Regions from separate parts of the Homo sapiens genome. Here region 1 is linked to region 2. Evidence: fine-mapped expression QTL. A gene starts in region 2. The other region holds a variant in brackets. All regions are shown on one strand. Distances are from middle to middle. Region 1 holds the start of LOC105370577 (a long non-coding RNA gene). Region 2 holds the start of VASH1 (vasohibin 1).

Region 1 (17,078 bases), 37 kb before region 2:
AAGAAAACCACTCAATTCCTTGTATCCCCCCAAACACATGTACACACATGCAGCTCTGTTCCAACCTCCTGGAAGGAAACTGGCTGTCACCAAAGGATTCCAGCCAAATACTTGGGGTTCCTCAAGGATATCTTTTGAAAACAACAACAACAAAAATGTAGATTTTTTTTTTTTTTTTTTTGAGACAGTCTCGCTCTTGTTGCCCAGGCTGGAGTGCAATGGCACGATCTTGGCTACTGCAACCTCCACTTCCCGGGTTCAAGCGATTCTCCTGCCTCAGCCTCCTGAGTAGCTGGGATTACAGGCGCCTGCCACCATGACCAGCTAATTTTTGGACTTTTAGTAGAGATGGGGTTGCACCATGTTGGCCAGGTTGGTCTCAAACTCCTGACCTCAGGTGATCCGTCCGCCTCGACCTCCCAAAGTGCTGGGATTACAGGCGTGAGCCATCGTGCCCAGCCAAATGTAGATGGTTGAACAGCTCCAGTCACAATGTAAAGTTTTAATTTTCCTCTGCAATAAAAGCAGCCTTTTTCTTAATGTTTTCTTTGATAGAGGGAAGCCCCCACCACCACTCCCGGCTTCTTTGCCCCAGCCCTCCTCTTTATCTAACCCAGCCAGATGTGTGCATTTTTTTTTTCCATTCACATGGCACAGGGTTTGAAGATGAGCTGTATCCCCCATTAGCCACTCTTTCCACCCCCGGAGAGACTCTGATTGTGGAGGATTCGTGCTGCTGACTGTAGATAAAACAATCGAGATGGGGGGCTGCTTTGGAAACGGGGGGGGGTGTGGGGATTTTTCCATCTGGAATCACAAGGCTTTTGGTGGTAGGCCCAGATGGAACCACGATCTGTCTGTGGAGACAAAGCTTCTTTTGGAACTGGTCATGGCCACAGGAATATGAGGTTTTTGACAATACGGTGGCCAAGAGATAGGAAACTGAAGTGGGTTATGAAATGCCAAGGACAGATCACTCTGACTCTGGTGAAGTAAGCCCATTAGTAAGCTGAACTCATGTAATTCATCAAGGAGCTTCCTTGAGCCGGTGAAAACAAGGATTGTAGAACTGTGAGTTCAGACCTGGACGTTAGAAAAACAACTCCCAAGTCAGCCAGTCTCCACCCTCTTAGCTTAAGTCATCTTTCGGCTGGGAGCAAACATGCTTCCTTACCACACCAGAACAATGCTAGGTCTTCAATTATTGTAAAGAATTTTACAAATGCTGAGTGTCCCTGTCGACACTATTAATGAACATCCTCTAAGCTGCACTTAAGCCAAATCCCAAGGGATAATTAGGGATACGGAACAATGATACAATGTAGATTGCCAGTTTGCTTGAAGCTCCCAACATCCAATTAGAGGGTGGTAGCGATTTCCCAGAGCACAGGAGATGAAAACCATCTGTCACAGCCTGCTTCCTAAATCCTCCCTTCCAGGAGCTCTTTCTGTCACCTAATAATGCCAAAAAGGAGCACCTTCTCGGCCCTGAAAGCCCATCTTCCGACCAGACATGAGTTAACAAGCTGCGCGCCCCAGGGCAGACCACATTTCCTCTCTGAGCCTTCATTTTCTCTTCTATAAAATGAACCTGCTGGACATGGGTTGGTGGCTTTCAAACTTTTGAAAGCAGTGGAAACTTTTGTTTTTCTCAAGAGGAAAGCTTGATGATGGAACTCAATTTGGAGTATCTTTATGTCACTGAGAGGAAGTATAATAAACACTCCACTAATCAGACTGCTGGAGGGAGACGGCTCAGCTCTTTTGTGTCTTAAATCTCCAAGCAGACTATCAGTCCCCATGGATTGGATCACTGCCTGCAAGTATTAACTGCTTAATAAATGTCACGTAGGAAAAAATGTGTGCTTCATTGGGAAACTGTGTATCCTTTAGAGCATACCCTTCCAGGTTATCTGAGTGCGATGCTTTAGGGTCTCTGGGCCATTCATTGCCTTTGAGCTATTTTTCAAATCTGTAAATTGTAGATAACTGATAGCAATGTAAATAATTCCTGTTTGCAGGCATGCAAATACATTCTGTCCCGAGGTGGTTCAATTTACTTCCTATTTTCCAAAGGAAAGCCAGTTTCCTTCTATTTGAAATATGTTTCCTTCTATTCGTAAATATATTTCCTTCTATTCGTAAATACACTTCAACATTGCTTTTCTCCATATAAATTTGTGCCTCTTTTGACTTCTCATTTGAACCGGTTGTCACATCTTACCAGCCTTCATTAATGATGCACTAAATACAATTTTAACATGTCCATTTTATGTTTGTAGGAATGTCATGATTTTAGCTTTCTTTGAAAATTGCCTTAGTTAAAAAGTTTATCAATAAAAATGAACATTTTTTTTTTCCGAGTTCTCCCCTGATGTCCAATAGCATTTATACTCACACACAGTTGACTTTAAAAGTATAATGTTATGGAAATGCCTTTAGGAAAGCAACACATGCTCATTGGGAATAAGAAATGAGAGAAAGAGCCACATGGGATACTAGGAGCTAGGCTCCCTTAGGCATAAAAGGGCAAGTCGGGGAGCAGTTACCCCAACTCAAGAGAGAAGCTATTGAGAAGGCTGGTGATAGGAGCTGAGGGCTGAAACAGGCGGAGGCAACCAACCCAGGGCAACCCAGTGTAATCACACCAGACCAATCTGGTTCAACTCTTTTTTTTTTTGAGACAGAGTCTCGCTCTGTTGCCCAGGCTAGAGTGCAGTGGCGCAATCTTGGCTCACTGCAAGCACCGCCTCCCAGGTTCACACCATTCTCCTGCCTCAGCCTCCTGAGTAGCTGGGACTACAGGCACCTGCCACCACACCTGGCTAATTTTTTTTACTTTTAATAGAGACGGGGTTTCACCGTGTTAGCCAGGATGGTCTCGATCTCCTGACTTCGTGATCTGCTCACCTCGGCCTCCCAAAGAGCTGGGATTACAGGCGTGAGCCACCGTGCCCAGCCCTGGTTCAACTTTTATGTAACAAAGTCGTGAGTTGTTTTTTGGTTGCCATGGATCCCCAAGTTGAAAGTCAAGTAACCTGAACATGCCCAGATGAACCAAGTGTGCAACCACAAGTGGAACCTAAGTGCTGGAAGCCGGGAGCAAGGACTGCTTTCAGAGGTGGACTGCACATGGCAGGATCCAGGATCCAATCAGATTGAGCTCTAGTGTCACCCCGTGGCAGGATCCAGTCAGATCATGCCTCCCCAGCATCACCTCATTGCAAGATCCAATCAGATCATGGTTCATTACCCTTCGCCTATAAAACCTGCCCCAGCCCACCAGCTAGGCGACATAGATTTCAGCCTTGCCTCCTGTCTTGCCAGTCAATTCCCAATAAAGGTTTTCAGTGCCATGGTATTGGCTTGTGTGTGCATCAGGCAGTGAGCCCATTGCTTGCTGGGTAATACCAGCAGAAAGAGAACAGAAATGAATATTCCAGCCTCACTCTGCTCCCTGCCTTCATGGGCCAAATCCAGCTGGACCAAGAGGGAAAGGGAGTACACATGTTCATAGGCGTCAGCCTTCTTGGTGGAGGGGACATCACAGTCATTCAAACAGCGAACCAAGACAGCTTGGGATGAGAATCAAACCACTCATAGCTCACTGTCTATATTAACATGACTTTACTATTCCACTGTCCTCATCAAAGTAACTTCACTATTATTCCAGAAAATGCTTGCCCAGGAAGATAAAAGCTGTAAATAACTCTACTGTTCATCCCAGGAACTTCCTGAAGGACACACCATGTCTTCAACAGGAAGCATCAGTTTATAGGTTCAATAGGAAGACAGTTTATACCCCAAGGTTCTTTGAACGCCTCAGCCAGAAATCCTCACTTTGCTGTGTCTACCAATCATGATCTTAGCAACCCCCATCAAGCATGCCACCTCTGCACTGAAAGAGCCACCTTAAACCAGGCCTCAAAGTCTCAATAAAAATCACTTTGCCCTCCCACTTTGGGAAGCTACTGAGGCTTTGTGGAGGGGGTACTCTACCTTACCACGGTGAACAATCAACTCAGCCTTGCCTTCTCCGCAGGTTGCTCTGGTGATATTTAGGAGATGGCATTTGACAGAAGGGAAGCATATTTGGAGATGATTGTGTATGTGAGCCTGAATCATCCAGGCAGGTTTCTTCCCTGCTCCAGTTCAGTGGGACGACTGCATAAATATTCTTTCTTTTTCCTATGTGGATACAAAATATTGAGTTTGGGGGCTGGAAGGAATCCCAGCGATGAACTCATCCCTCCCCTCCTTTATGGATTAGGTCAGTAGAACTTACACAGGGAGGTCAGCCAGGGGGCTGGGATCTGAATTCAAGTCCTGCGGCTCTGAGCCAGGTGGCCTGCATTTATTCATTCTCTTGCTGCCATGTTTCTCTTTTCTTTTCTTTTTTTTTTTTTTTTTTTTTTTTTTTGAGATGGAGTTTCACTCTTGTTGCCCAGGCTGGAGTGCAATGGCATGATCTCCGCTCACTGCAACCTCCACCTCCTGGGTTCAAGTGATTCTCTTGCCTCAGCCTCCTGAGTAGCTGAGATTATAAGCATGTGCCACCACACCCAGCTAATTTTGTATTTTTAGTAGAGACAGGGTTTCTCTATGTTGGTCAAGCTGGTCTCGAACTCCTGACCTCAGGTGATCCACCCGTCTCGGCCTCCCAAAGTGCTGGGATTACAGGCATGAGCCACTGTGCCCAGCTTTTTTTTTTTTTTTTTTGGTTTAACAATTGTTTGCTGTGTACCAGGTATTGTGCCAGGTGACGAGCACTCAGAAGTGGGGCCACGTTTTCGAGATTCTTGCCCCGTTTTTCCTTCCGCCCCTTTAAAGCAGATCCTGGGCTCTGTGCTCCTTTACTGAAGAAAGTGGTGGAAGGAAAGAAAGTCGATAGCAGTCTAAGAACTCCCAGCTTCCAATCCCTAAAGTCTAAACATTTGGGAAGAACAGAGGAGATTACAGGTAAGGACCCAAAATGTAGGAAAGGTTTTTCCTGGGCTGGTGTTGGAGGGGAGAGGATGAGAACAGAGAAGGGATGGGTCTCAGGAGGAGCAACCCAAGAGAGAAGGCCTGCGTGGACAGGACTCGACGGGGCATGGAGGGCTCTGTGACATGAAGCGGCAGAGTGACCCCCATACCTCCCCAGAGCCATGTGGACAAGACTGAGGGCCAGCCCAGGAGTGACCTGTGGAACCAATAACCAGCACCAATGCCCTGGCACCATTACGGTCTCGACATCATTAAGACCCTGAAACTCTAAAACAACCAGTGGAGAGCTGGTGCTGCAGACACTCAAAGAGGCAGACGCACAGAGCCAAGGAGGCTCTTGGATTTCGCCCCAAAACTGGGTCAAGGGGACAGAGTCTCCTCCCTCCCATTCCCGACCAGTGCGCTGGGAGTGGCCACACTAGGCATGGAGCAGCCTGTTTGCCAACACACTCTGGTCATAGGAGAAAAAAGAAAATGCCTCCTGAGTTTGGTTTTAAGGAGCTCCTTAACAAAAGGCAGCCCTGAGCAAAGTGATGCTGGGTGAGGGATGCTGCTTTTGCTTTTAAAATAAGCCACAATCTTCCCAGCAAACAAAGAGTGTCTTCTGAGTAACTCAAAGAATGTTTCTTTTCTCCTGGTACAGGGAGGGCATCTTTCAAATGAAAGTCCGTATCTCCTGTTTTCAGGAAGAAACTAGATTAGAATGCCCTTCTTGCATCTGCTGTTTTTCAAGTGCCTTTAGCTCAAAATAATCCTTATGCCAAAGTGGTATGTTTTGGGGTGGCATATCCTGGCACCTTTCAGCAGGAACAGGGGTGCAGAGAGGGGCCATGTGGAGTAAGCCTGTCCCTGAGGGCCAGGAAGCCCAGGCAGCCTCACTTCCTCTCTCTCTCAGCAGCTGATGTGACCCTGGTCTGACCTTGCAGCTGCTCCTCCTGGCTCCCTGCTGGCTGCAGGCCAGGGCTCAGATTCCAGTCTTTTCCACAGCTCTAGAGGACCAGACTTTCAAAGGAGGGAAGGAAGGGAGGAAGGGGAGGGCAGGAAGAGGTCAGAAAAGAGGATGGAGAATTTAGGAGGGGAGAAAGGGAAGTGAGAGGAGCGCAGGAGGCTGGTGGGGAAGGGAAAATCAGACCGGAGGAGAGGAAGGAAATGAGTAACTAATTCTGAAATTGCGGCACCTGAGGCCTCAGTCCTTTTGGGCCTTAACTCTTGCCCTGGGGCCTATCACAGGGGGCCCAGGAGCACTGTTTGCTGTGACCATCCTGGGCAACATGGCAAAACCCTGTCTCTACTAAAAATACAAAATATATTCGATTCATGAAGCACCTCAAATTTAGATTTGCAAAGACCTCCAAACAAAACACCTGCATTGTAAGAAGACTGCCTGCTAGGCACAGTGGCTCACACCTGTAATCCTAACACTTTGGGAGGCCGAGGTGGGTGGATCATTTGAGGTCAGGAGTTCGAGACCCACCTGGCTAACATGGTGAAACCCTGTCTCTACTAAAAATACAAAAATTAGCCAGGCGGGGTGGCAAGCGCCTGTAGTCCTAGCTACTCGGGAGGCTGAGGAAGGAGAATCACTTGAACCCAGGAGACAGAGGCTGCAGTGAGTGGAGATTGCATCACTGCACTCCGGCCTGAGCAATAGAGTGAGATTCCGTTGCCAAAAAAAAGATTGCTCAACCTTCAATTTTGAACTTGTCCCCATCCTGGGTCACACCAGCTACACTACACTGAGTCAGTATTTTTCATAAATTTAAAGGCCATGGTGTCCAATTTTATTGCAGTGTTTTCTTTGTATTAAGGAATGAATCTGTTAGTGGCAAACATTTAAAATATATTGCCAACTTTATTTAATTAATTTATTTATTTTTGAGATGGAGTTTTTGCTCTGTTGCCCAGGCTGGAGTGCAGTGGCAAGATCTCAGCTCACTGCAACCTCTGACTCCAGGGTTCAAGCGATTCTTCCGCCTCAGCCTCCCGAGTAGCTGGGATTACAGGCGCCTGCCACCCTACCCAGCTAATTTTTGTATTTTTAGTAGAGACGAGGTCTCACCATGTTGGCCAGGCTAGTCTCAAACTCTTGACCTCAGGTGATCCGCCCACCTTGGCCTCCCAAAGTGCTCGATTACAGGTATGAGGCACCGGGCCGGGCCAAACTGCAAACTTTATAATGCTGTTAGGGTTCTTCTCCTGTATTTTTAATTTATAGGGAGCTTGAAAAACGGGTGTGGCCCAAGTCTCTCTCAGTTGCTGAGATGCCCTGACGGCACCTCCCACAGCCCTGGGCCCCCTGTAGGACCAGTCTCCCCTGGAGGACACCCACAAGAACAGGAAAGCCCCACCAAAACGCTAAGGAGGGAGGCAGAATTGGTGACACTGGGTCCCCAGAGATCCCATGGCTGGTGACACCATAAAAACTCGTTTTCTTCCCTGAGAGATGAAGAGGAGTGGGGGCAGGAGATGATCTACATGCCAACTCTGGGAATATGTTCAGTCCTATCACTGGGCCCCATTTTTGTTGGTGGCCAACGCAACAGTCTTTCCCTGACTCCTTCCCATGAGCTTGCCTTTCATCATAGGGGATGAAAGGCCAAAGATACCTTCCCAGCCTCTTCTGCGCTAGAAGTAGCCTAGTCAATAAGATACAAAAAAAATTCTCCTGGGTTGTTTTTAGAAAATCTTTTCCTCTCTGATAAAAACAGAGGGGCAAGTCCAGGCACAGTGGCTCACGCCTGTAATCCTAGTACTTTGGGAGGCCAAGGTGGGCGGATTGCCTGAGCTCAGGAGTTCAAGACCAGCCTGGGCAACATGGCAAAATCCCGTCTGTACTAAAAATACAAAAAATTACCCAGGCGTGGTGGCGCGTGCCTGTAATCCCAGCTACTCAGGAGGTTGAGGCAGGAGAATCGCTTGAACCTGGGAGGCAGAGGTTGCAGTGAGCTGAGATCACACCACTGCACTTCAGCCTGGGCGACAGGGCAAGACTCTGTCTCAAAAAAAAAAAAAAAAAAAAAAAAAGAGGGGCAAGAGGAGAGCTCCTTTGCCCACCTCCTTGTTTCTAGATTGGGTTGGGCGTGCCGAGTGAAGACAATGTGCTGGCGCTCAGGCAGGGCAGGAAGTGTGCTAAAGCCAAAAGGGTGGAAGGACCTCGCTGAGCTGCTGCACGAACCCCTGAACTGTCTACACCCAGGCTTCTTAATTATGGGCGATGATTAAGTGGCTTTTTGATTTAAGCTACTCTTGCACAGGTGTTCCATGATTTGCAGTCAAAAGCATTTCCAACACCCAGAGCTGTGCTAGGACTTGTAGAGGATACAGAGACTTCCAAGATTTGATTTCTTCCTTCTATTCTAGAAGCTTATATTCAAAGTAGGGAAACTAGACATATGTACAGGTGTTCAACATCCTTAAAAATCAAACAACTTGGAGTATAATCAAATTTTAAACTGAAAGTAACAGCAATTTCACTCTTGAGAACTTTTCCCAAGAATGTATGTTCAGAGATATTTGCTGAATTGCAGCATATAGTAGAGAAAATGTGGACATACCCTAAATATTTAGCAATAGGGATTGAAATTACAGCACATACATAAATGGAATACTATGAAGTCAGTAAAGATGGTGATGTTGATATATACTTAATGATGGGAATTCTATAGACAATACTCAGAAAAAAAAACAGGTTATCAACTGTGTACTATATAAATCCACTCATGCACAAAAACATCTGAGTCTGGTATATGTGAAACTGTCAGCAGTGATTATTG[G/C]TATACAGTGGAATCATGATGGATTTTTATTTTCCTTACACTTTTCTGTACTTTTTCCACTTGTTGCAATGAACACATATTGCATTTGTAATAGTTGCACTAACAGCATTTAGAAATGCAACTGAATAGTAAGACTATCTGTGCTAATAGAGTACAGTGAAGAGCTTTTAAAAATCTACCAAAATTCACTGTGCATCAACTATTTGCAAAACAACATGGTATATAGGAAGGGGATGGAGAACATGAAAAATAGATCCACAGTCATACACACAGTCCATGGCTTTGAAGGGTGGCAGAATATGCCATCCCCAAAATATGCCACTTGCCTTGATTATTTTGAACTAAAGGCACTTGCAAAAGGGGTGCTCTGACCTCCCCTTTTCTTCCTAAAAACAGGAGATAAATCTCCCATGTGAAAGGTCCCCTCCCTATACCAGGAGGAAAGAAACATTCTTATCATCAGAGATAGGAAGTTGAGACCAAGAGAAATCTGTACATACAGACCTTGTTAAAATAATTCTTACGTTCTTTTAGTCCTCATGTATATTTTAGTTACTCTTCCACAATTGCCTCTCTTTGTTCAACCTAGTATATAAGCACTTAGGTTTTGCCAGTTCTTTAGATCTTCATTTTCCTTTGGGGGATCCCATGTACATGTCAAAACCTGTGTGCTTTTCTCCTGTTCATCTGCCTATGTCATCTTAATTATCAGTCCCAACCAGTAACCCTAAGATGGTTGAGGTAAAGATTTTCTTCCCCTACAGCTTTAAAGAACCAAGTTTCTACCTGGGCAGCTAAGACACAGACAGGTGACATAGTTCCATCCATTCTTAGGAGCTTAGAATATTTGTTACATATCCTAACCTGCCCAATGATATGATAGATATTGAAATAAAACATCGAGTTTTAAGTATTTGGCTTTTATGAAAAAAAATTGGAACAACAGTTTTACATTATAATTTTATATACAGAGTATTTAAGTCAGGCATTGTGAATAGCTTCTGGGAAATGCTTTCAGACCTTGTAAGTTTTGCCTAGGATTGTTTGCAAAGTCTGATTTAACACCCTGTATATAATAGAGAAACCTAATTCACACCCAAACCTTTTGTATTTCTTAGAGTTACAAATGCAGCAAAGCATCTCTTAATTTCTAGAACCTTTCCAAATCATAAATGGTAGTATCAGTTTAAACCCTGTGATGTTCTGATAGGCTTATCACATATGTGGTGTGACCCTGATATTACCAGCAGCATAGCTTAATTCTTGAATTTGACCCTGTGTTAGTCCGTTCTCTCGCTACTAATAAAGACATACCCCAGACTGGGTAATTTATATAGGAAAGAGGTTTAATTGACTCACAGTTCAGATGGCTGGGGAGTCCTCAGGAAACTTACAATGACAATGGAAGGGGAAGCAAACACATCTTTCTTCAAATGGTGGCAGGAAGAAGTGCCAAGCAAAAAGGGGGAAAGCCCCTTATAAATCAGCTCTTGTAAGAACTCACTATCACGAGAACAGCATGAGGATAAGTTCCCCCATGATTCAATTATCTCCCACCAAGTCCCTCTCATGACACGTGGGGATTATGGGAACTACAATTTAAGATGAGATTTGGCGGGGGACACAGCCAAACCATATCAACCCTCTTCCCCTGTTTCTGGGTATATTCTAGCAAACTAGGTAGCATTCTAGCTTTCCTTAGACTAGAACGATGTTTAAACAATTGTCCTTACATTTAACATTTGAGTACAGAAAAAGATCGTCTAGGTTTATTTACTAAAACTGTCAGCTGGGTTCACCAAGCCACCCAAAATCCAGATAACATGGATTCATCCCAAATTCTTGTGCTCACCACTGGCTCTGAGCTGCATCTGCAGAATCACATCACTTTAGGAATCACCTTGCCATCCTGCTGTTGTTGCTGTTGGCACACATACCATTGACCCATCCGTGGCACTCAAACCACTCCCTAATTTGCACAGGGGCAGGTGCATGTTGTGTGTGTACATGTGTTTGCGGGCATGCATGTGTGTGTGCATGTGTTTTGAAGGTCTTACCAAATATTGGTGCATGGCCCTCTCACCTCTTTCCTCCCACCTTAATGCAGGAACTGGTTTGTCTCTCTTTTGTTGCTTAAAGTTCTGCTGGCCGGTACCCTTAGTATCTTCTTTATTCATTTTCAGTCAGCAAATAGTTATTGAAGACCAACTATGTGCCATGCACTGTACTAGGTGCTGGGGAAAACAGTAATAGTCCTTAACTTCAGAGAGTTTACAGTCCACAGTCTCCTGTCAAAGACAAACCTTACTCAAAGAATCATACTACCAAATATAGTTTCCCTAAGTACTTTTTAACTTTGTATTTTTAAAATAATTTTAGACTCATGTAGAAGTGCACATAGATATACTATATAGTTCCCGTGTACCCTTAATCCAGCTTCCTCCAATGGTAACATCCTGCATATTCATAGTACAATCATCACAACTGAAATGGGAAAAGTTCCCTTGTCCCCCTTGCAGGGCGTGCGATGGGGATGTGGCTTGCTTTTTCAGTGCCCTGCTGCTCAAACCTGTAGGGGAGCATACAGACAGGCACGCTATGGGCCTCCGACCCCATGGCAGTGTCTAGGGGTGAATGTTTACAGCTGAAGCCCTAGTGGGCGTGTTACTGTGTGTGTGTGTGTGTGTGTGTGTGTGTGTATGTGTGTGTTTTGAGACCGAGTCTCGCTTTGTTGCCCAGGCTGGAGTGCAGCGGTGTGATCTTGGCTCACTGCAACCTCCGCCTCCCGGGTTTAAGCAATTTTCTGCCTCAGCCTCCCGAGTAGCTGGGATTACAGGCGCCCGCCACCGCGCCCGGCTAATTTTTGTATTTTTAGTAGAGACGGGGTTTCACCATCTTGGCCAGGCTGGTCTGAAACTCCTGACCTCATGAGGCCTCCCAAAGTGCTGGGATTACAGGCGTGAGCCACCGCACCTAGCCCAGTGTGCTCTTTTAGTTTTGCTTTTAGTTTGGCCGGCTATAGGTGGCTTGTTTTAGTCAGCTCAATTAGACCCCTGCCTTATTGCAAGGACAGAGGGCTTTCTATATCCCCAGGTTCTTGCCTTGGTGCACCAAAGAATCGGATCATATGTGGGCTTGGAGAATGAGCGGAAGGTTTTACTGAGTGGAAGTACCTCTTAGCAGATGGGGGAGCCAGAAGGGAGATGGTTTTCCCTGGAGTCGGTCTGCTTGGCGGCCCGAGCGCTCCTCCGACTGCCCCAGCCAAACACCGCGTTGTTTTGCCAGTCAGTGGCCTGCCGGCATGCTGGTGCCTGTGGGTGTGTTCCTCCACAGAGCACTCCTCTTGACTTCCAGCTGCTGCTGTTTCTGCCTTGCTAGGGTCTCGGGTTTTTATAGGCACAGGATGGGGGCATGGCAGGCCAGGGTGGTCTTGGAAAATGCAACATTTGGGCAGTAAATTCCTGTCCTCACCTAGGTCGGTGGGGGTGGAGCCCTAGCCAGAGACCACGCCCTCCTCTACCCAGCACTTCCCTTCTCCCTTCCCTATCATTTAAAAGAACTACACCCTTCCCTTCCCAGCACTCCTGTATCTAACCAGGAAATGTACATGAATGCAATACTATTAACTAAACTACAGCCCTTATTGGATTAGCATTTAGCCATCTCTAAGTGCTTTTTTTTGTTTTTTTGTTGTTTTGTTGTTGTTGTTGTTTTGTTTTGAGACACGGTCTTACTCTGTTATCCAGGCTGGCGTGCAGCGGCACAATTACGACTCACTGCAGCCTTATCCTCCCGGGTTCAAACGATCCTCCCACCTTAGCCTCCTGAGTAGCTGGGATTACAGGTGTGCAGCACCATATCTGGCTAAGTTTTGTATTTTTTGTAGAGACTTAGTCTCACCATGTTGCCCAGGCTGGTCTCAAATTCCTGACCTCAAGCAATTCTCCTGCCTTCACCTCCCAAAGTTTTGGGATTACAGGCATGAGCCACCATGCCTAGCCTCTGTGCTAGCCTCTAAGTGCTTTTTAATACACTAATTAATAATTATAACGCCTAGCCTCTGTGCTAGCCTCTAAGTGCTTTTTAATACACTAATTAATAATTATAACAATCATAGGCAGTAAATACTACCATCACCCCTATTTTATAGATGCAGGAACTGAGACCAGAACAGTTACATAACTTGCCGAAGAGTCAGCTTGCAGTGGCATGACGAGGATTGCAAATCCAGGCAGCCCGGCTGTAAGGGATTTGCTCCCCACCACTATACTGTCCCTCCTCTTAACACTGCCCAACCTAGCCAGAACATGTTTTCTTGTTCAAACCCAAACAACCTATCATAGCTCTACAATACATGGCCAGGGAGCTATTAGAAAAAGTTGTAACACTTGGATGACATCTTTAAAGCCAAAATTTTGCTTCCAAAATCAAAGTTTGTTTCAATGGCAGAGGCTTCCCAAAGGAAATGACTATTTCGATCACTGTTCATGAAACAATATTCTTTGGGCTAACAAAGGCTGACATTTCAAACATTTCCCTGTGGTTGAAAATAACTTCAGCTGAAATATTTTGATTCTCAAAAGGAAGTTTCTTTGTAAGAAACGGCAAGAAATGCAGGTGCAGTTAAGGCACACCCAAAACAAAGGCCTCTGAAAATGCAGGGCTTCCTCTCCAAATCATACAATGTTTCCAACTGTCTCATTCCCACTGAAGGAGATAAGAACATGCCTTCCCCAAAATATGCTGCCCTGGCATATTGACTATTTTGAGTTAAAGGCATTTGAAAAACAGCAGGTGCAAGAAGATCATTCTGACATTCCTTCTGTTTCTTAAAAGCAGGAGATGAAACTGCCATGTGAAAGATGCTTTCTTTCCCACAGTATAGGGAAAGTATACTTTCCCTATACTACAAGGAAAGTAACAGTCTTATTATCAAGAATGGAAGCTTTAGTGGAGAGAATTCTGTACAGACCTTGTTAAAATAACTTACCTTTTTTAGCCTCCCCACTGAATTTAGTTACTTTTTCACAATTCTACTATTCTGTCTAATTCAGTATGTAAGTGTTCGACTCTAGCTGTGTCTTTGGGTCTTCAATTCTTTATGAAGGCCCCCATGCCATGGAAAACTTGTACTAAATATACTAGTATTCTTTTATCCTGTGGATCTGTCTTATGTCACTTTAATTCTCAGGCCCAGCTGAAAAACCTTAAAAAGGTAGGGGTAAAATTCTGCCTCCCCTATACCACACAACTCTAAGCCACATGAAATCTGCAACACATGCACATTAATCTGCTTAATGTTGGAAAATACCAATCCCAGAGGAGAGAGAAATAGAAAAGAAAAATTAAACAAGAAAAAACACCTTTTTGCCTAACCATGCATTTGTGGCATGTAAACGTGTTACCACAGTGCAGAAGTGACCTAAATGACCAAAGAGCCCCACCTCTCCCTTCTCCACGGTGAGATGTATCACTACCGTGGGCATCCTAAAGCCAGCTCAATCACCACAATGAGGATTCTCTTTTCTGAGGCATTACCGCCCTCTTTAACATTTTATGAATCCATTTGCAGCACAATCATTTGAGATTATAGTTTGGTCTTGCTCTCCCATAGATTCGTCCCTGCTCTGATTTTAAGTGGGTAGCCAGACCCTTTAGAATTGCTTGCCTTTGAGATTTCGCAGCACAGAAAGCTAAAGAGCTTCAAGTCCATGTCTCCTTCGTTGCTGGTGGCAGTAGGGTAAGGGGAAATGGGATAAATGTAATAAAGAGATGTGTTCTACATGAAGAGGGGAACAAGAGTAGCAAGGGGTGTTGCTGAACCAAACTGAGTCTGTTTGCTCATGCACAATGGAAAGCCACACCCTGGAGCATTTTTGCAGATATTTCTGTAGAGAAAGGTACATTGCAAGACCAGCCTTGAAGCAGTATATTTAAGGGAGAGATTCTGAGGAGGAGCTTTGGGGTGGTTAGTGATTGGCAGCAAAGGAGAGGAATTTTGGAAAGGCCCTTGAACGTGTATAGTTGTGTCTTCAAGCTTCTTCATGAGTCACACACGCAAATTCAGGGTGAGTTGGTATGAAATATGCAGTGGAAATTTTGGCTGTGATGTCAAAAGTCACCCACTGGGCAAGTAAGTCTATTCTGGGAAGACTCTAGTCAGCCATATTGGTTCCAGTTTCAGCCAGTGAGCCAGTTATTGTTGCAACTGGAGGGGATTGTATCAAGCTGTTTCCTTATCTACCATCCTGTAAGTCAAGCTCAAGGTTTCTGGTCAGTGACCAATTTCTTTTCTTTTCTTTTCTTTTCTTTTCTTTTCTTTTTTTTGAGATGGAGTCTTGCTCTGTCACCCAGACTGGAGAGCAGTGGCACGATCTTGGCTCACTGCAACCTCCGCCTCCTGGGTTCTAGCAATTCTCCTGCCTCAGCCTCCCGAGTAGCTGGGATTACAGGATGCACCACCACACCCGGCTAATTTTTGTATTTTTAGTAGAGATGGGGTTTCACCACATTGGCCAGGCTGGTCTCGAACTCCTGACCTCAAGTGATCCATCCGCCTTGGCCTCCCAAAGTGTTGGGATTACCACCATGCTCAGCCCGTGACCAATTTCCTTAAGCCTGTGGGGTACAGCTCCAGGGGCAGAAGATGTTACTGAAATGCCAGGCATCCCATTGCTTGCTGCACAGAATGCCAGGTGTCCCATTCCTTGCTGCACAGAAAGCCAATCACTGAGACTACAAGTATTACCAGAGCAGAATGCTTGATTTGGGTGCTGTGGCCAAGGAGAATGGGAGGTCAGTCTCAAATCTGTCTCTTCAATCAACTAAAATTAGGAGTTTATATAGCAAGGAAGGAATGTAACTATGTGTGGGAAAACAGGAATTAGGGAGAGTAAAAAAGAGTTGGTCAACAGACAGCAGGTGGTCTGTGAGGCAATCATGACTGGTGAGAGATCTCACTGTCCAGACGTGGTGATCTGGTAAGTTTCAGTTCTTTGATACTGTCTGGGAGGCTTGATGGTTGGTTTCCTGAGAAAGGAACTTGAATAAGACAAATGTAAATTCCTCATGTTTTAAGACTGGGAGGGTCCATTCCTATGTTTATTCCAAAGAAACCATAAACATCAGTTCCATGGAACAATTGGTCTGGTTTCAAAGAGAGAATCCCCTAGCCTGCAATGGGGAGCCATGCATCTCTTTCTGGAAAGATCTAAAGAGACAGATGGCTATTGGTACACCTAAGGGTGCTGAACTCCAGGCACTAAGGGCCTCAAGTTTTCCCAAGAGTCCCTTGCCCCAAGTGTGGCATGGATGCAGCAGGAGCAGGAGCCGAAAGGGACTGTTCAAGCTGAGACACAGAGGTCGCAGAGTGACCAGTGGGGCAGGGGACTGGCAGCAAATCCCAGATGAGTCTTTAGTGCTTAAGGCTTTAAGAACATTGAATGACCTGGGGCAGGTGGAACACTGTCAGAGAGACTCAGTAATTACTGAAATTTAACTTCCCACCACTTTCACAGGTGGGATTAATCCACGTTGACTTGAGGAGTACACAGAAATGTTGTATTCTTGAATATCTGCATTTGTGGACCAGTAGTCATACTGAGTCTATATTCATTTATTTGTTCATTTGGCAAATAATGACTGAGCTTATACTATGTGTTGTACACAGTGGTCCCCCAAGCTTCCAGTGATCACACTGGAAGGTGTCCTTCCTAAACCAAGGAGAGGCCACTGCAGTACTGCTGATATAGGAGAAGGCCCCAGGACATCTTATGGGTAGCATCACAAATGACCCACGTTGCACTGATGCTCTTACACTGTTAAATTAAGTGCAGCATAATGTGATGTAGAGGAGTAAAATTTTACCTCTACCTTCCTTAGGGCTTATCAACTGAGCTTGCAAATTAAATGACATAATAAGAGAAAATCAAGAGGAGCAAAGCATACAACTTCATTCAATACAAGTTTACATGACCCAGGGGCACTCATAAGGAAATGAAGACTCAAAGACACATAGTTGAACATTTATATACTAAATTGGGCAAACAGTAGTAAAATGTAACAAGACAAAGGGGCTTGGGCTAGGGTAGTTACTTGGGTAGAGGAGTGACTAGGAAGATAAGAATTAGTCTACCAAGTACAGATTTCCCCTGCCTCGACTTCCTATTCTTGATGACAAGAATGATTCTTTTTTTCTGGTATAAGGAAGATATCTTTCACATGACAATTTCATCTCCTGCTTTTAAGAAACAAAAGGAAGGTCAGAGGGATCTTCTAAGAGTACCCCCTGTTTTTTAAGTGCCTTTAACTCAAAACAGT
Region 2 (14,933 bases):
AGCCATCTGTGCTGTAAGGAGCCCCCCAGGTTCTTCTGAGGCACACTCAGGTTTGAGAAGCCCTGCTTTATCCAACCCAGCAAACACTAACAAGATGCTACTTTAGTCCCGACTCAAGAAAATTTGGAACCTGACCATCTTTGTTGTCCCTAACCCAGCCTGCCTGTGATGGATGTAAACAGGCCACCCTTCTCTCTCATCTCCAGGGACTACCTCAGTGGTCCCATCACTTTTTCCCTGTCTTTCCCCACAGCAATAAGGGAGTGAACAAGAGTGTTCTGTGAGCTGGACAGAACAGGAATGTCAACGTTTCCTCCAGGGGGTTCGCCTAGGGCCTGTTTGCACCTGCAGGTCTGACCCTGTGGAGCTAAACCCCCTACAAGCTTCATAACTAATGTTCCCAAAGCAGGGAGCATCTGGCCACGACCCCAGAGAGAAGGGATGAGGACAGAGGTAAAAACAATCTCAGGACCCAGCCTCGGATGTTATGTTTCTTCGCTCCTCCTGCAGTAATAGAGCATTATTTCCCTGCTGGCAGATGCAGAATCACAAGCTGATTGTGCACTGGGCTGGAGTGCATATGCCACCCATTTGTCTTGCAGTCTGGCTGGGCGCTCTGCCCTGCTCATGGGAAGCCTTCTCTCATTGCTGAATGCCAAGCAGGCTGGATAATCACCCCTCAACGGGGAGAGGATCCACCAGAAACATGTCTTCCCTTTCCCAGCACAACTGATGGGTAGGAAGGGCACTCTCGCCCCCCTTCACCCCACCCCCACCAAGCCAGCTGGAGCTGGCTGCTGCCTATGTTCTCCTGTGAGCATATCACAGGGGTACATAGAGCCCTGTGGGCAGCACGATGGGGAAAGGGCATTCTTGGGAGGCAACAGAGCACAGTGGTGAAGAGAGGAGGCTCAGCAAGGTCTGGGTTCAAGTCCTGCCTCCTCCCCTACTTAGCAGGGTTGTGAATTGGGCACGTTTCTTCCCTCTCCTAACCTTCATTTCCTCCAGAATGGGGATGATAAGGACACCTTTCCTCTAGGGGTGCTATGCAAAGCCCTTAACACAGAGTTAACCCCCAAATGAGTGTCTGTAGTTGGTGGCAGCTGTTGATGATAAAATAGATACCCTAAAAAGCCCCCTGGAAGGAGAGTAGATGAAGGACAGAAAATAGGCATTAAACACAGGCTGAACACAAAGGCCACAGAGGAGCTGGGTACTGAGGAAACTTGCAATGGATGAGAAGCCCCCAGCCTGCACTGCAGCCTGCTAGCAACTGTATGTCGCTGTAATTTGCTTTGTAAGTTGATGCACTCAACCACAGGACAAATGCAAAGACCAAATTGGAAAATCTAAGTGGACACCCTTTGTCAAATGGAAAAACATGAGACGAATGAGTGTTTTCTTCCCTTTTTTGTTTGCGAAATCCTTGTCTACAAAATCTTTATAAGCCTAGGTTGAAGACCCTTTCTTACCTAAAACCAGTGGTTCCCAAGTGGGAGTGAGTGTCACAATGGGAAAGGTTGCCACTGGCATCTAGTGAGTACAGGGCCTGAATGCCACTAGCCGTCCTACAGTGCACAGGACAGGCCCCACAACAAAGAAGTGTGCAGCTTTAAATATCAACAGTGCTTAAAGCCAAACACGGTTGCCTAGATTAGAACAAATCACTCACTCTGTGCTCCTCAAACACCTTGTTGAAGCCTGGTTTGGAGCATTGGCCTGAGTCTGCCACATCTTGTGGTTAGCTGGTGGCCTCCTGGTACCGCAGAAAGGGCACAGCTTCTGAACGTGCTCAGCCACTCACTGGCCATGACAGAGGAACAGTTGTTTAGCTTCTCTCAGGCCATTTCCTCATCTAAAAAATGGAAAGTAGAATCCCCATTTGCAGGATTATGGTAAGGATTACATAAATGTAGAGCCCCTGGCCCATGGTAAGGGTTCAAAAAGTTATTGGGATGTGTCATCTTCGACGCAACCTCAGGGGGCCATAGCAATGTCTTACGTATCTGCATCTCCTGCAGCAAATTATGCTACACCATGCATATAGTATAAGCACTCAGAAACTGTTGTCGAATTAAAGTGAAGTCTCCCTTGAGAACCAAGCCTCAAGAAATAAACCCAGCCCACCTCATGGACCTACAGACTTGCATCTTGTAAATGGTTTTGATCTAGTCTTCAGGATGTACCAGCATCTCAGAACTCCCTCTGTTTCTCCCTGTCTCCAAGTCTGGGTCCTATCCATTGAACAGGGAGGCTGAGATCAGACTTTGATTCTTTCGGGGACACCCAGAGCCTTGACCACAGTTTGAGAGAAACTACCACAGCCTGGCCATTCCTGCCTGACTCAATCGCCGATCGCTCCCCGACTATCCAAACACCTGCCACAGTGCATGGAGAAAAACGCTGGGGGAAATACCATGTTTTCTAACAATGGGAGGGATACAAGTCTGGATGAGTGTGATTTGCCTGGAAAAGAGAGTGGCCATCACCCAGTCCTTCAAGTTGAAGACAGCTTTTCTAAATACACACCCCATCCACAGCCACCCATTGACACACACAGCTTGGCCACACCCTGAAACAAACGTGGGAAGACCTTCTCTCTCCCTTAATGTGGAAGACCTTCTCTCTCCCTTAATGTGGGAAGACCTTCTCTCTCCCTTTTGCCACTGCAGTGCTTTCAAGGGCTCACCTACTACCAGCTTCTTCCCTGCTAGTGGACACATCAGGGAAGGCAGACTGGGCCAGGAATCAGGAGAGCCCTGAGTTCAAGTGTAATCCCACCACCAGCTGGCTGTGTAATCCTAAATCCTGTCACTTCTCTGAGCCTCAGTATTTTATCTATGAAATGAGAGTTAGACAAGAAAATCTTGAAGGGTCTTTCGAGCTGTGCTCTACTGCACTCTTTTTTTTTTTTTTTTTTTTTTTTTTTTTTTGAGACAGAGTCTCGCTCAGTCACCCAGGCTGGAGTGCAGTGGTGCCATCTCGGCTCACTGCAAGCTCCGCCTCCCAGGTTCACGCCATTCTCCTGCCTCAGCCTCCTGAGTAGCTGGGACTACAGGCGCCCACCACCACACCCGGCTAATTTTTTGTATTTTTAGTAGAGATGGGGTTTCACTGTGTTAGCCAGGATGGTCTCGATCTCCTGACCTCGTGATCCACCCGCCTCGGCCTCCCAAAGTGCTGAGATTACAAGCGTGAGCCACCACGCCCGGCCTACTCTGCACTCTTTCTACCAGCAGTCGTGGCTTTGCTCCCACATGGACCTGCTGAATGAGATGCAGACAAGCCCTGATCCATTCTAAGACCAGCCCTTGCTGCTTGTCAAGGCCTGGATCTCCTACTACTGTATAAGGTGGCCCCCAGAGAATGGCAGGGGTGAGATCTCTCTGTTAGAGTTCTTTGGAATGGACACAATGAGTCCTGGCCCTTCCGAGCCCCTGGAGGCCACACCAGGCTGCCCGGGAAGTATCAGGCAGAGATCAGATTGCAAAGATACATGGCAACACAGCCACTCTGCCAGCCCACGGGAATCCAGGCCAAGAATAGATAATGCTTATACCAAGCATGCATCATCATTGCTAGGTGTCTTAGAACTAACTGCTTCAGGCGCCACATTGCTCTTAGCTGCTTCTTCCAAATCCCTCAATAAAAGGAATCCAGGCATAACCATCAACAAAAAGAACTCAACTCCAAATCTGCTCATCTGTCTTATCCCCAAGTCTCCCTTTCCTCCAGGCCCCTAGTACTGTCACTGAGCTCAGGTAACAATTGTCCGGATCATGTCTGGAGCTTCACCAGCACAAAGCTTTCTTTCCTATGTGAAGCCAGAGTAGAATGCTGCCATCTGCCAGCTGCCCCACGCTCTCGGCTGTGGGGTAGCTGCAGAGCGGTGTAGGGGAAAAAACATGAACTCTGAAATTATCATATCAGCTGTGCCACCCTGAACAAATTACAATCCTCAATGGCTCTGAATCTCAGTTTGCCCACTTGTAAACTGATGTCAGCAATACCTACCCTGCGAGATTGACCTGGGAATTAAATGAAACTCTGCAGGTAAAGCACCGGACCTACACTCGGGGCTCAGTGAAGAGGAGCTATTTTTATAGACTTTCACTCACTTGGCTGAGTAATTCAGTTCCAGAAACAAAACGGACAGTTTGAGAAAGCAGTGATTTAAAATGAATCCCAAGCCAGAGGTCCTTTTGGCACTTTACCTGAAGTGAACTGGATTCTGTTTGGATTAAGGAAAAACAGACTTGTTCTCTAAGAATTTAGCAGTCAATTCAGACAGATGCCAAATCCATGAAAAACTCTCTGATTTTGTCACGCAAACCCCAGAGCGGAAGTCAGACCCAGGCAGATTCAGGTTTTCAGGTGACCTGAAGCAAATCGTTTCACTGGCCAGTCTAGATCTCAGTGGTTCCAAGCCCAGCTACCATTCGCATTACCTGGAGATCTTTTCTAGACTATGGGTACCAAGCCCCACTCCAAACCAGTTTCATCAGGATTTCTGCAGGGTGCAGACTGAGGATCAAGAATTTTAAGAGCCCCTGGGGTGATCCTAATGTAAGCTCCACTGGACCAGAAGTGCTCCAAGATCCTCGCCAGGTATCCCTGGTGCCTACAACCATGTATGATTCAGAGTAGATATTTAGTATATGTTTATTGAGTAAATGAATGAAGATTCTGACTCAACTTTTTGCTGTTTTCATGTTCATAATTTATGAGGTAAAAGAAGAAAAGAAAAGGAGTTTAATCCCAAGAAAGAATCACAGAGCAGAGCTGTCCAATAGAAATTTCTGCAATGGGCCAGGCGCAGTGGCTCACGCCTGTAATCCCAGCACTTTGGGAGGTTGAGGGGGGTGAATCACGAGGTCAGGAGTTCAAGACCAGCCTGGCCAATATGGTAAAATCCTGTCTGTACTAAAAATTACAAAAAATTAGCTGGGCACAGTGGCAAGCGCCTGTAATCCCAGCTACTGGGGAGGCTGAGGCAGGAGAATTGCTTGAACTCAAGCGGCAGGGGTTGCAGTGAGCCGAGATTGCATCACTGCACCACAGCCTAGGCGACAGGGTGAGACTCCATCTCAAAAAAAAAAAAAAAGAAAAGAAAAAGAAAAGAAATTTCTGCAGTGATGGACATGTTCTATAATCTGTACTATTCATTACAGTATCTATGAGCCATAATGGCTACTGAGTACTTGAAATATGGCTAGCGTGATTGGAGAAACTGAACTTTTAATTCTATTTAATGTTAATTAAATTCAAATTTAAATAGACACATATGACTTCTGGCTACCATACTGAACTTCTGGCTACCATTGCAGAAATTTCTTTTCTTTTTTTTTTTGAGATGGAGTCTCACCCTATCACCTAGGCTGTGGTGCAGTGATGCAATCTCGGCTCACTGCAACCCCTGCCACTTGAGTTCAAGCAATTCTCCTGCCTCAGCCTCCCCAGTAGCTGGGATTACAGGTGCTTGCCACTGCGCCCAGCTATTTTTTTGTAGTTTTTAGTACAGACAGGATTTTGCCATATTGGCCAGGCTGGTCTTGAACTCCTGACCTCGTGATTCACCCCCCTCAGCCTCCCAAAGTGCTGGGATTACAGGCATGAGCCACTGCGCCTGGCCCATTGCAGAAATTTCTATTGGACAGTTCTGCTCTGTGATTCTTTCTTGGGATTAAACTCCTTTTCTTTTCTTCTTTTACCTCATAAATTATGAACATGAAAACAGCAAAAAGTTGAGTCAGAACATCTACCTTTTATAAACACATCTATACCTGTGTGCCTCCATGCCCCTCTTTTACTAACAGCACCCCATTTACCTTTAGGGCAGTCCTTCTCCCCCAACCACCTGTAGTCTTGGCTAATGAAATTGCCCCATCCTCCTCTAGCCAAGGATCCAAGCTAAGTCAACAGACTCTTCTCTCTGGAAATTTCACTCTAGCTTCTGTGTCACAAGAATAGAAAATGTGTCAGAGCAGATTAATATGAGTGTTGATGCCCTAAGACAACATGCGTTCATTTGCAGACCATTAGTCCAGAGTGTGACGATAACAAATGTGACACATGATATGAGTTAGGCGTCATTATCGTCATCCTTGTCATCATGAAAGTGACTTGTACCCAGCAGCTCAGATGTGCCTGCTCCTGTACTAGGTATGTAATTTGCCTAGCTTCTCTTATGCATCCTTTCTTCATCTGTAAAATGGAAATCATACTCATCCTAACTCTTCCACGGTTTTTGTGAAGACAGCAAAAGGAATAATTGTCATGAGGGCCGGGCGCGGTGGCTCACGCCTGTAAGCCCAGCAATTTGGGAGGCCGAAGCAGACAGATCACTTGAGGTCAGGAGTTGGAGACCAGCCTGGCCAACATGGTGAAACCCCATCTCTACTAAAAATACAAAAATTAGACAGACATGGTGGCAGGCACCTATAATTCCAGCTACTCAGGAAACTGAGGCAGAGAATCACTTGAACCTGGGAGGCAGAGGCTGCAGTGAGCAGAGATCGAGCCACTGCACTCCAGCCTGGGTGACAGACCGAGACTCTGTCTCAGGGGAAAAAAAAAAAAAAGAAAAAAAAGAAAAATAACGGTCACGAAAGCTTTGAGCCAAATAAGGAGTTACCCAAGTGTCTGTTGGAGGAGTTGTTCCCAAGGCATAGGTGTGGGGAGTCATGGGAGGGCTTGATGAAGGACCCAGGATCTGAGACCAATTCAAAAGTTGTGCCATACCAGGTTAAGTCACTTGTTCTCTCTGGGCTTTTGGCTTAGATAAGACTGGGTTATACACATCTCTTTCCAGTTTCACCATTTTCTAATCTATTTGCAAGCCCCCTTGCCTGACACATACCCTCTTCCACTTCTATGCACACATGCCAGAAAATTCTCTAGCCTAGTCCATGCTGACCTTGTACCCAACTCATTTCTTCTTTTCCCAGCTCCTCACCTGATTGGGAAGTTGCTCTGGGTATGCACTCCCACAGCTTCCTGAATAACCCTCTGGCAGAGCACCTTATGGAAATCATGCTTAACTATCTCCTCCACTAGTAGGCCATAAGTCCAACTAGAGCAAAGGCCATGTCCCTCTTGTTCACTACTGCTTCTCCAGTGCCCAGTACAGAGTCAAACACATAGAAGATGTTCTATGAGTACTTACTCTTTGAATGAATACCCTACATCTATTTTATTTGTCATTTCAGAAAACACATGGTATTATCTCATGCTGCGTAACAAGTTAGTCCAAAACTTAGCAGCTTAAAACGAGAATAGTCACTTATCCTCTCTCAATTTCTGTGGGACAGAAAGTCAGACAGGGCACAGCAGGGCTGGTTGTTCTCTGCTCCATGTCTGGGACCTCAACTCTAAGACTTAAAGGCCGAGGGCTGGCAAGACCTGAAGTCTCGGTTTGCCATGATCTGGTGATTGACTCTGGCTGTTGGCTGAGAGCCCAGCAGCAGCTGTCAGCGAGAACACCCTCATGTGGCCTCACCATGTGGCTTGGGCTTCTTCACAACATGGTAGCTGGTTTCTTCTGAGGAACCAAGAAGAAGCTGTCTCCTTTTTATGGCCTGGTCTTAAGAGTCATACAGCTTCACTTTCATCACACTTTATTCATTAGACACCAGTCACCAAGTACATCCCACATTCAGGGGGAAAGGAATTAGATCCCATCTTTTGAAAAGAATGGTCAAGAGCTTGCAAGCCAATTTTAAAACCAGCACCACTTGGCTAACACAAGAAGCAATGTATAGAGTGAAAAACAAGTGTCTGAAGAAGTAAGACTTCTGTTCACATTCTAGCTCTGCCACTTACTAGCTGTGTGAGTTTGGGGAAATTACCCTCTGAGACTTGGTTTATACAATACAGGGTGATAGTTGTTGATCCCTAGTGATTTTTCTACGCTTGGAGTCTTCTTGCCTTAGTGAGTTTAAGAAGATCCAGGCTGAACTAACTTTCTTGGAGTCTTGCAATCCTTCCCATCACTGATAACCCTTGGTTTCTGACCCTGGAGGTAGTAAGAGGTTGCTACGGGAGCACAGGGTACCCAGAAAGTTCAGATACTAGGGACAGCTTTAGAGAACAGATGTGAAACCACTGAGGCCCTGGGGTCTCTCTAAGGCCTTTAACCCAGCCCTTGTGTAGTAACCTCAGCTTGTCAAGAAATGCAACGACCCCACAACTAAGGAATCTGAATCTGCCGGCTAAGGCCAAGGAATCTGCATTCTCCCACAAGACTGTGATTCATGCTAACTACAGGCAGGGGAGAGGGGGAGCATCTTAAAGCACACACTCGGCCGTCTCTTCCTAAAGTTCTTGGCTTCAGCCTAGAGATAGTGCCTTTCCCACCATTTACAACTCTATGGCATGAGGGAGGCGGAGGGTGCGTCCAGTGTCCAACCACGCACCACAGCTGGTTGTACTTTCACCTTCCTCTAGGCCAGCGGACCCTCCCCAAGCATTGCCTCCCACGCCCACGTCGCGGTCCCACCCTGGTCCGCGGGGTCCAGAGCGTCCAAAGCCCGGTCTAGGCAGATGGTCTAGGGGTGAGCTCTGCGCACCCCATTCCCACCAGTGCAGGCAATCGAATAAAACAGGGTGACTTTTAACCCTTTTCGTTTCCAGAGATAGTGACCCCCCGTCTCAATCCCTAGATGTCCTCCTCTAAGAACTGTGCGCGCTGGGAGGGACTCTGCGCTCACTCACTGTGACCACCTCGGCTGGGATATGGGGAAACTGAGGCCTACAGAGGGAAGGGAACTGCTGAACGTCCCAAAGCAACACAGGCACTGAATCCGGTCTAGAATCCCAGTCTTCCAGGCCAGTGCTCTCGGTCCTACCGGCTCAGGGCCCCTGCGAAGAATCTTTTTCAAGAAATTCCCGACCGCAGGAATTCCTTCTGCGCTAGGAATCTCCATGGAGTTTGCGCTCCCTCTGGCACGTTGAAAACGTCCTCCGCAGCTTCGCACCGGCTTCGCGGCGCCCTGACAGCTGGGTGAGGAGGGAGCGAATGCCCACCGGCGTCCTTGGGGTAACTTGGGACAGAGGCACCGCCGCGGGGGGCGGAGGACTGGGCGCGAAGGCGCTGGCCCTTTAAGGGGGGGACGGAGCGCATGCGCGGCGCGGGCCGTAGTCGAGCCTGGTGGGCGGCTGGCTGGCAGGGGACGTGGTCGGCGGCAGCGGGGCCCAGGGGCGGCGGGGCTGCAGCAGCGGCGGCCCCAGCTTCGCCGAGCAGCGATCGGCTGGTGGGCTTCTCGTTGGCGGGCTCCGCGTTGGCGGGCTGCTCCCCAGGCACCAGCGCAGCGCGCGCTCGCCCGGCTTCGTCACTCGCCTCCAGCTACATCCGCCGGCCGAGGCTGCGCGAGCCTCCGGGCTTGCGGTCCCCGCCCCGCGGTCCTTCCTCCACCCTCAGCCAGGGCAGCTGCAGCCCGAGCGAACAGCCACGGAGCATCCTCCGCCCGCCCGGGCCGCGCCACCGCCCATGCTGCAGCCAGTCCCAGGCAGCGACCCCGCGGCCGCAGCCCGCCGCTCAGTGACCTCAGCCTGGCCCCTGCGCGCCGCCCGAGCCGGTCCCGCTGAGCCGCGGGCCCCGTGCCCTGCGATGGCTCGGCTGGTGCAGCGCGGCGCCAGGTGCCAGCCGTCCTCCCGCTGAGACGCGCCCGAGTGGGGACCCGCTGGGCCTCGGGGCTCGCAGCCTTCGCCTCCCCGCCGCGCCCGCTCCCTTTCTGGGGACTCCGCCGCTGTTTCTGGGGACGAGGGGACAGGGGACCCAGACAAAGCCCACTTTGTGCAGGGAGTTGGCCGCAGGCGGGGAATGTGCGCGTCGGCGCGCGCCCCCTCCCCGCTCCCGGCCAGCTGCGAGTCTTGGCTCCCGGACTTGTCTCGTCGCGTCGGAGAAATCGCCCCCCAGCGCCGCTCTCCCGCCCGGGGGTCTTGGTTCCGAGCTCGCGCGGCCGGGAGTCGCCTCGGTCTTCCTTGGGGCGCGCGCAGATGTGAGCGTGCGAGAGTTGTGTAGGGGATTTTGTTCCCTCCGAAACTGAGACCCAGGGCGCCCAGTGGGCACCCGTGCCTTGACTCTGTCCTTTCTGCAGCCGCTGGTCCGAGCTGTCTGGCCTCAGTTTCCCTCCGACTTTTCTCCGCTCTGCCAGCCCTCACTGCTGCCCGTCATTGTTCTCGCAGTTAGATGGGGGTGCTTTGTGACGGCTGCCAAGTTGGGGTGTGTTCTCTTTATTCCGTTTTTCAAACAGAACAAGGCCTCCAAGGCTGACCCCAGACAACCCACCCCCTCGGACCCTAATTCACCTTATTGCACTGATTTTTTTTATCAAGTCGTATTTTATTGTACAGGAGCCACGCCCTGATTTCTTAAAGGCGCCTTGCACTCTGGCCATGTGTTATCTCTGCAGCCGGTGTGTGGGAGGCCTCTTGTGAGCCAGTTGTTTTCCCGCCTCCACCACCCCCCTCGAAGATTTAGGGATGCCAGGGGGGAAGAAGGTGGCTGGGGGTGGCAGCAGCGGTGCCACTCCAACGTCCGCTGCGGCCACCGCCCCCTCTGGGGTCAGGCGTTTGGAGACCAGCGAAGGAACCTCAGCCCAGAGAGATGAGGAGCCAGAAGAGGAAGGGGAAGAGGACCTGCGAGACGGAGGCGTCCCCTTCTTTGTCAACCGGGGTGGGCTACCTGTGGATGAGGCCACCTGGGAAAGGATGTGGAAACACGTGGCCAAGATCCACCCCGATGGAGAGAAGGTGGCGCAACGGATCCGTGGGGCCACAGACCTGCCCAAGGTGAGACACACGGGTCAGGGGGGTGATAGCACAGTCTAGGTTTTAGTGACCTTGGGGCCAAGAGTGAAGCCACACTCTCCTCCCACGGGGCAGGGGACCACTGGCTCGGTAAGATCTTTAAAATGCAGTGATATCATACCTGTCTAGGAGAACTTTCTCTCACTGCCATTCTAGGAGGGAGGCTCACATACATTGTCTCCAGGAGGCCCTCCCCGCTGTCTTTTAAAATGTCCACGTTTTACAGGAGGGGACAGCAGCAGATGGAACTAACAAACACAGTAGGATGGCTTGACGTCTCATTTGCTTGATGACACTTGCCAAGCCAGAGAACTGTGAGCAGACAAATGTAATGAATGACTAAGGAGATGCAGGGCTTCATATGTTGAGAAAATATTTTCGTGCATTATGTCATTGAATTCTCCCAACAGCCTTGTGACGTAAGTACAGTTTGGATTCCCATTTTACAGATGAGAAAGCTGAAAACTCAAGTAGGAACTCAAGATCCCACAGCCAGTAAGTGGCAGAACTGAGATTCAATTTCAGGTCTTCAGGAGAAGGGCGGGGGGTGGTGGTGGAGGGAAGTGTCCAGGTCCTCTTCTCTGTTGGACAGTAGATTCAAGCACATTAGAAGAGGTCTTATGGAGAAGCATAAAATGAAATAATTTTTCTGTGTTGGCTGTAACTCCTCCTCCATGACAGCTATACTTCAGTTGTGTCACCAACGAAAACAGAGGCTGTATCTCATTCATCTTTGTCTTCCCAAGGCCTCCTGTGTGCCTGGCACAGAACAGGCACTAGTGTGTGTGTTTGCTGAATGAAAGGGTATTTGAGAGTTTCTGTGCTGTACGCTGCTATATGGAAATACATGCCAGATATTAAAAAAAAAAAAAACATGATCAAGACTAGGAGGCACTTTGCCAAATGCAGAGGCCTGAAATCTCCAAAAAAGAGCCCTTTGGACTGAGTTCAGAGCCCAGTGCTTAGCCCTGCCTGCCCAGGTTGGAAGGAAGGGGGCTAGGAAGAATGGAAGTTAGTGTGAATTAGACATGAGGACAAGTGGCCCGTTTTGTTTTTACCAAGTTATTGGTACAGCCATCAGAAAGTGTCTTCTGGGAAAAAGAGAATCAAAGGTTGAAGGTTTAAATACTGCCTAATGTTTCCAGGGGAAACAAAATGTAGATTGATTTGGAATGGCCGCATAAATGTGCTCTGCACTGACTTAATATTTATTTAGCTAATCCCCTAGAGTTGGATGTTGTTTCCAGTTTTATTCCTAAAATGAATACTATGGTGAACATTCTAAAATATAAATTTTGGGGTTCATCTCTGATTATTTCCTTGGGAAAAATTCTGAAAGCGAAAGTATTGCGTCAAAGGATATTGACATTGGTAGGGGTCACCTGCTTATCTATATGGCCTCTTCCACCTATTTGAGATGCAGTTTTCTTATCAATAAGATGAGGTTGATTGTGGGGAAGAAATGAGAGACTGTGTGTTAAAGTATTTAACAAACTGTAAAGCCCCAAACCAGTACCTGGTTATTGGATATCAGTTACCTTTTTTTTTTTTTTTTGAGATGGAGTCTCACTCTTTCCACCAGGCTGGAGTGCAGTGGCATGATCTTGGCTCACTGCAGCCTCCACCTCCCTGGTTCAAGTGATTCTCCTGCCTCAGCCTCCTGAGTATCTGGGATTGTAGGCACCTACCACCACACCTGGCTAATTTTTGTATTTTTGGTAGAGATGGGGTTTCATTTTCAACATTTTGGCCAGGCTGGTCTCAAACTCCAGACCTCAGGTAATCCACCCACCTCAGCCTCCCAAAGTGCTGGGATTACAGGCGTGAACCACCACGCCCGGCCAGACATCCATCACCTTTACTTATGTGCTTTATCAAGCGGCAAGACTGGGTTTTGCTCAGATCATTTGTCCCGATGAGGCCAGAGTCACACCCTGCTCCCACGTGAACAAGTCGGGCAGCTCTCCAGCCATCTTGCTTATGTCTAAATCAGGCCATAAAAGAGTGTGAATGGTTCCCTGCAGAACTGCCACCACTCCTGGGAACTAAAAAAGAAATAGTGAGCTCACTAGTAACTGGTCTGTAATGTCATTCTGTCATCTTCAGTCCTCATGTACAGGAAAGACACGGATGAAGGAAGTCTAGGGGTGGGGGCTGTGTTGTGACAGACCCCTAGACTTCCATCGCTAGGGTAGAAGGAATTTTGTGAGAGGTTTGGAAAAATTTGAACCTCCCCCTCTTCAAACCACAGATCTCAGATAAATCGCATGAGTCTGCATGAGGTCCCTCCTCTACCTGGGCTCTGAGTAGAAAGGTACCCTTAGAGTCTGGGAGTGCAGTGGAGTCCAGGAGGCCTTGGAGAGAAGCAGCGTGGGTTGGGTGCCTGGGTGCCAGGGTGCCAGTGGCAGGGTGGGCTGACCCCGCCCTTACCATCCCTAGGGGCCATGCCACTGGAGCTGGCACAGGGTCATTCCCTACAGCGGCCACACAGTGTGGGGCTCAAGAAGTGTTTTGTTGGGAAAATTGGGAGATTTCTCACATAAAGATCCAGAGTTTTGGCATCTTTTCAGAAAATAAGAAGACTTGGGAACACATGGGAATCTGCAGTCCCACGTGGCAGCTGTCAGCTGGGGCTGGGGAGTGAGTCCTACTCCCCCATCTTGCCACTGTCTCCACCACTCACCTACCAGGCCTGCCTGCCCCGTGTATGTTACTTGCCCGGCCCCTGCATGTGGTTGAGTCTGGGACCCCTGCAGGCTGGTGTCATAAAAGGAGAGCACTCTGGAGTCAAAGCTACCATGTTCAAATCCTTGATCTCCCATAACTACTTATATGAGGAAGACAGGCAACTTTCTTGTGCCTCAGTTTTCCGCAGCTGTGAAATGGAGCTAATAGCAATGCCCATCAAGAGGATGTTAGAGGAATTAATGATGCAAAGCATGTGATGCTTCATTAAGTGCCTCTAATAGATACCCAGTAATGGAGCAGGGAGTGAGTGTTCATCGACACCCCACTAGCGCTTTGGAGAAGCAGCCTTTACAGGGATGATGCCAGTATGTTATAGGGCAACAATTTCTAGAAAGATCCCAAATCCAGCAACAGCTTAGGCTCCTTGATAAGAGTCTGTCCTTGATGTTTCAGGCTTCCACCCCCTTTAAAAGCTTAGTGGCCACTGACCCCAGACCCAGCTGCTGAAGGTCTTTTATGGTCTCTTATGGCTCAGGCCACAGAGCTCCTGCAGAATGGGAATTTGGACATCTCCTCTAGCTACTTATTATGACTCCAGAGTGCTTTCCTTTGATTTATTTATGAGACAGCGTCTCGCTTGGTCACCTAAGATGGAATGCAGTGGCACAGTCATGGCTCACAGCAGCCTCTACCTTCTGGGCTCAAGTGATCCTCCCACCTCAGCCTCCAGAGTAGCTGGGGCTACCGGTGTGCCCTACCATGCCTGGCTAATTTTTTTATTTTTTGGTTGAGATGGGGTCTCTCTATATTGCCCAGGCTGGTCTCAAACTCCTGGGCTCAAGCCATCCTCCCGCCTCAGCCTCCCAAAGTGCTGGGATTACAGGCAGGAGCTACTACACCCAGCCTGGACATCTCCTCTAAAAGGGTAACGTTGCTGGGATTAGCATGTGCGAGGCACACTGATAATGATGACAGTGAACACAAATTAAGTCTGTGCTGTGTGCCTGACCCTGCTCTAAGGCCTCGACCTGCAGCATCTCATTCGCACTATAAGGCTGATTTTGTGTTGGTGCCCACTTTATAAATGAAGTGTCTGAGGCACAGGGGAGGTCAGGAGCTTCACTAAAGTCACGACTAGGCCGGGTGCGGTGTAATCCCAGCACTTTGGGAGGTCGAAGCAGGTGGATCACTTGAGGTCAGGAGTTCGAGACCAGTCTGGCCAATGTGGTGAAACCCCATCTCTACTAAAAATACAAAAATTAGCTGGATGTGGTGGTGCATGCCTGTGATCCTAGCTACTCTGGAGGCTGAGGCAGGAGAATCACTTGAACCCAGGAGATGAGGTTTTCAGTGAGCCGAAGTTGAGCCACTGCACTCCAGCCTGGGCGACAGGGTGAAACTCTGTCTCAATAAATAAATAAATAAATAAATAAATA

What was found.
Region 1: its variant is fine-mapped to the expression of VASH1 in whole blood (INTERVAL, PIP above 0.99).

The regions. Positions count from the first base shown.
Region 1 is chr14:76,714,587-76,731,664 of GRCh38, forward strand. LOC105370577 (a long non-coding RNA gene) reads right to left here and starts at 12,125. Exons shown (of 2, transcript XR_007064273.1): 1 at 11,933-12,125. RefSeq lists an enhancer at 5,914-6,073. The variant G/C (reference allele first, on the strand shown) is at 8,760.
Region 2 is chr14:76,752,340-76,767,272 of GRCh38, forward strand. It overlaps VASH1 (vasohibin 1), which reads left to right and starts at 9,129. Exons shown (of 7, transcript NM_014909.5): 1 at 9,129-10,791. The coding sequence starts at 10,483. RefSeq lists silencers at 9,096-9,285, 9,386-9,655.